Regions from separate parts of the Homo sapiens genome. Here region 2 is linked to region 1. A link means that fine-mapping ties the variant in region 1 to the expression of a gene that starts in the linked region. Tissue or cell type: whole blood. Region 1 holds a variant in brackets; the other region holds the start of a gene. All regions are shown on one strand. Distances are from middle to middle.

The links. PIP is the estimated chance that this variant, and not a neighbour inherited with it, causes the effect.
Region 2: it holds the start of NKX6-3, and the variant in region 1 is fine-mapped to the expression of NKX6-3 in whole blood (TOPMed, PIP above 0.99).

Annotation. Positions count from the first base shown.
Region 1 is chr8:41,584,961-41,587,642 of GRCh38, forward strand. The region is part of intron 1 of GPAT4 (glycerol-3-phosphate acyltransferase 4); the gene reads left to right. Among named protein-coding and RNA genes, the nearest start is that of GPAT4-AS1, 7.9 kb to the left of the region's middle. RefSeq lists enhancers at 1,852-1,991, 2,102-2,201. The variant C/G (reference allele first, on the strand shown) is at 1,545.
Region 2 is chr8:41,649,449-41,652,130 of GRCh38, forward strand. NKX6-3 (NK6 homeobox 3) reads right to left here and starts at 1,369. Exons shown (of 3, transcript NM_001364841.2): 1 at 663-1,369. The coding sequence starts at 1,044.

The DNA of each region.
Region 1 (2,682 bases):
TTGGGTAATTTATTTTATCCAGGATTGATGCCAGCTATGTGTGTTCTGGGTTTTTAGCACTTCAGGTTCATGTCAACTGAGTCGCTCTGAGAGCTGCCCTGTTTGGAAACATGCAGTTTCCCCACTAAGCAACAGCTTCCTATTCAAGCAAATTTCTTACACTCTACCAGTCCCGATACACTCGACGTTAAATTCAGCGTAGCACACATTTCCTCATGCCTGTGTGTGCGTGTTTGTTTACATTACAGTTGGGGCATTTGGTGGGCCTATGTATGTTCTGACAGTAAACTAGGAGAAATGGATGCTTTTTTCTGAATTGTAATCCACCCTAAAGCAAGTGAGGAGTCAGCCTGGGAAGCAAGAAGTGCACTCGACTGGACATCAGATGGGCGTGTTAGTCCTGCCTCTGTTACCAGCCATTCCGTAACTTGTCCCCATCATCAAACCCTTCCGAGGCTCGGTTATTTGAGCCATAAAATGAAGACATTGGGCTAGAATTCTGAAAGATTAACTACTAAAGTTGTGGTTTGTCATCATTTTATTATTATTGCCTCCAGCTTTATGGTGATGATTAGTAGTAGAAGCTTCTATTTATAGAGGATTTTGTGCCAAGCACTACACTGATAGCTTGATAGGCATCATGTTCAGTCTTGACAACAATACCACAGGATATGTATTATTCCCAATTTACAGATGAGAAAACTGAAGCATGGAATGTGACTTTTTTGAGGTCAGACAGCCAGAAGGTAGGGGAGGCTGGTTTTGAATGTAGCTTGTCTGATTCCCTGTATGTTTGGCCATCATGCTTTACTGCTTCCCTGACATTCTGCAATTTTAAATAAAGACGTAAGGACAAAAAACTTGTTTCAGGAAGGATTTTTAAAAGACATCCAGTCTAATCACCATAATGTATCTGCCACTCTGCAGAATGCAGTTGTAGGTGAAGGTCTCCCTATGCAGCCTATTCTTTTTGAACAACTTAATCTTAGATTCTTTTAAAAATAGCTTTATTGAGATACAATTCACCTAATGAAAGTATGTTCACAGATGTGTATAGTCATCAACAGAGTCAGTTTTAGAACATTTTTGTCACCTCAGAAAGAAACGTTTTAGCTATCACTCTTGTATCTCCCCACTCTCGCCAGCTCTAAAGTAACCAACAATCTACTTTCTGTCTGTGTAGATTTGCCTATTTTGTATAAGTGGAATCAATATGTGGTCTTTTCAATGGGTTTCATTCACTTAGTATGATGTTTTGAAGATTCATCCATGTTATAGCGTGTATCATTTCTTCATTTTTATGGCCAAAGGTTCCATTGTATGGATACACCACATTTTGTTTATCCAGTCATCAGTTGATGGACATTTTGGTTGTTTCCGTCTTTTGGCTGTTCTGAATAATGCCATTGTAAGCATTCATGTGCAATTTTTTTGGTGTAGACAGTTTGTCTTTCTCTTGGGTATGTACTTAGGAGTAGAATTGCGAGGTACATGGTAACTTTGTTTAACCATTCTCCGAGCTGCACTGTCTTACATTCCCACCA[C/G]CAAAGTGTGAGGGTTGGATTCTTAGTATTGAGCTAGAATTTGCACCCCATACCTGCCAACCATAGCACCAGTTCCCTTGCTTCATGTGTCCCAAGCAAATCCGCTTTTTCTAGGTGACAGCCAGCCCGGTCTGACCTGAGTGCTCTCCAGTACTGAAGGGCTTCCACCAGCTTTCATGCCCTGGGATGTCGTTCTAGAGCCTCACCACCTCTCTTATGAATGTGATCCCCCTCCTTTTTTTAGAGAACTAGATGCCTTTTACGTATGGATAATTTGTGCTCAGAGATGGTTGTCTTCTCAGTTTCAGTTGTCCTTTCTCAGTTAACTGGTAAGAACCCTTAACCCAGTAGTCTCAACTGGCTCCACATCAGAATCGCTCGAGTGTGTTAAGAACAAATCCAGATTGTACCTGCAGAGATTCTAATTTATTTCATCTGGGCTGAGGCCCAGAGATGCAAATAAGCATCCTGGGTGGAGAACCAGTGCAGCCTTTAGTGGCCAGGGGATGGTTCTGGCTGGGTCTCTGAGGGCCCACGTGGCTCATGCCCCTGCCATCTGTGCATGGATACCAACTGTCCTGATTCAGAATTACTGTGAGAGTCTCAGTTTTTACTAATGCATTTACACAGAGTGCCATTTTGAAGCCTTAAGCATTTATGTTCCTGTTTTCTGGAGAGTCTCATTTGCCCCCAGTATGCTCTGCAGACACTGGCTGTGGCCATGTTTGCCTCCCTGTCAGGCCATGTGAACTTTCTGAATGAGAAAGCATGCTCCAGCCATTTCAGAGGCATATAAACACCTTTAGGCAAAAGTGGTAGTTGAAAACCTCATTAGTATAATGTCATTACTTCTTGGGAAATACATTCAAATTCCCCTTCTCCTTCCTAGTGACAGGGGCTTAGATGAATAGTATTCCATTATATCCTCTATTGGGAGACGTTGATGTTTGTTTTGATATTACAGACAATGCCGCAGTCAGTATCCCAGCACATATTATCACTTTGCTCATGCTTTAAAATACAGGGTTTATACACTTCTGCACTACTGACATTTGGGGCTGGACAGTTCCTCATTGTGTGGGAGCTGTCCTGTGCATTGTAAGATGTGCAGCATCATCTCTGCCCTGCGCACTGCACT
Region 2 (2,682 bases), 64 kb after region 1:
GGGCCCACCCTCTGAAAACCTTGGCTGAGGGATGGGTCGGCTGAGAAGAGGCCCCCTGCTTCCCCACAGCCAAGGCCAAGTTCAGCTGGACTCAGCAGCAACTCCCCGAGACAGGCTACTTGGTGTGGCTGCTGTTGCTAGAAACCCGAGGATGTGGTGGGCAACAGCCCCCTGGCTCAAAGGCTGGACCCGGATGGGGTCAGGGTGCGTTCTGCACCCTTGAGTGATGCCAGGGCTCTCTGGGAAGGTGAGCTAGGACATTTTCCTCACGGGGGTAGCATTTGCCTGCTTTGGGTGAAGAAGTGGTTGCATGGGCCCTGGGCTGCAGAAGCCAGCTGGGCTGCCTACTGGACCTCGTGCAGGGCAGGCGTGGGCTGTGGGGCCTTCTCTACATCTGGAACTGCCGGGGGCCCTAGGAGGGCAGCTGAGGTGGCTGGCATGTGAGGGGGGTGGCTCAGACACCTGTGTCCAAGCACTGCTGGATGGGAAGGAGGAGAGGGTGGAACTCAGCCTGCACTGAGCTGAGGCTACGAGTCCAGGGGTTAATGGCGACTGGGGGAGAGGGCGGAGGTGCAGGGTGCCCGGGAGGAGGCCCCTCCTCGTCCTCTGCCCCCCGGGGCCTGGCGGGTGCCGGGAGGTGGCTGGGGAGGACCCGTACTCACTGTTGCTGCACTGCCGCCCGCCTCGCCAGTCTTGGCCCGTGTCCGCCCAGCAGTTCCGGGTCCGGGTCGGGTACTCGTTCCCAGCCTTGGAAAAATTCCCTACCTGGGGGCTGTAGTAGACCCCCTGCGAGCTGAGCCCCCCAAAGCCTGCCACGTGGGGGTAGCCGGAGAGGAGGCTGTTGTTCGGCGCAGCCACGGGCCTGCTCAGGATGTCCGTGATCCCGTGGGGGGTTCCGGCGGCCAGCTGGGGGCCCAGCCCTGGGGGGCTGAGCTTGTAGAAGGAGTTCTGCACAGAGTACTGGCACACCGGGGCCTTCATCTCCGGAAACTGAGCCAGCGGCGTGTTGTTCAGCAGGAACGTCCCCTGCAGGTTGGACTCCATGATCTCCCAGTCAGGACAGGGAAGGCTTCTCCAGGCCCCTAAAACCCAAGAGCCCACTCTCTAGCCCCAAATCTCATGGCAGGCCTGGAGGCTTAGGACCGTCTCCGAGCTCCTGACTGCCTCCCACCTAAGGCATGGGCCAGGCCCTGGCCCAGGAACCGGCACCCGATCAGCTGCTCGGAAGTCAGGTGCTCGGGGCAGGTGGGAGGCCTCCCCAGGGCTCCTGGCCTCTCTCCTTGCCCTGGCCGGACAGGGTGGCCCCCTAAGCCTCAGCTCAGACCCCCTTTCTGCCTCTGAGTCGGGGGACCCTCCATGAGAAGTTTTAAGTTCAGAGAAGGAACATTTCCCTGATAAAGATACGGCCCATTAGAATACAGGCCGGAGACTGGCTGAGCCGCCGGAGCCGCGCCGCCATTGGTCGGGGCGCACACGGGCCTCACATTGGCTTTTCCTAGACAAATTGCACTTTGAAAGATTGACTGTACAATCAGCCAGGGTGTGTGTGTGTGTGTGTGCGCGCGCGCGCGCGCGCGCGCGTGTGTGTGTGTGTGTATGCGCGCGCGCGCGAGAGAGAGACAGAGAATTAGCTCTAGAAGCCCTACTCATCGCCGGAGGGTCCATTTGCTCCCCGCAAGTCTAGCATCTAGGAAAAGGTGAGCGTCTGGGGGCCCCTGGAGGCTCCCAAGGCAATTGGAAGTCACTGTTCCTACAGCTGCTCCCCTAGGGAAGAGGAGGCTGGACTCAGAGGCCACTGTCCGGAGCTGCGCCGGCCCCTTTATGTGCACATGTCCAAGCTCCACAGGAGAACGCAGCCGCTTCCTTCCCTTCCGCATGCGGGGATGGGGTAAGTGGCATAAGATGGGGGTAAGTGCGGGGATGGGGTAAGAGGCTGAGTGGCATTGCTTTCTGGGGGATGCAAGTCCCTGTGGCTGGCTTGAGAGCCTAGGGTGGGAGCCTGCTGGGAAGAGGGCAGCGCGGGGCGTAGGCAGCCCTGACAGTGCCGGGGTGTGAGTCCTCCAACTGCAGGAGGCTGAAGAGAGGGCCGCCCTGCACGCATGTTCTTGCCTCCACCTCTGGTCGGCCTTCCGTGACCTCCCTATCAGAATCTCTTCCTCATTTGTGCCTCTGCTGGAGCAATGGCCATGCTCTGTCTGGCGTGGTGCCCGGGTTTGAAATCCCTGATGGCTGAGAGGGTGGTGGAGCCCCGTGCCGGGCACTCCGTCGGTGCTCAGTTAGTAGTTGATGCAGTGGACTGGGCTGAATCACAGAACATGCATATGCTTTTTTTTTTCTCGAATAAATTTTTACAACATACAAGGCTCTATTGGGGGAAGCTCTCATTTTACAAACAGGAAAACCAAGGTATAGAGGAATTGGAGCCCACTTTCCAGGTACATGGGTGATTTCTGGACCAGGCAGGATTCTTCCCTGCAGTTTTTCTCTAAAACTGGAAACTAGCATGCCACTGGCCTGAACATGTAAAATGCTAGGAAAGACTGTGACTGCCAGACAGATGGACTTCTGCTCCTCTCTGTGCCTGGTGGCCCCAGAGCCCTTCCTGACCAGGCGTGGGCTCTGCAGGGCTTGCTCTCTCACTCCCCAGAGGCCGCCCTGGTAGGTGGGAGACTAGAGGCACTG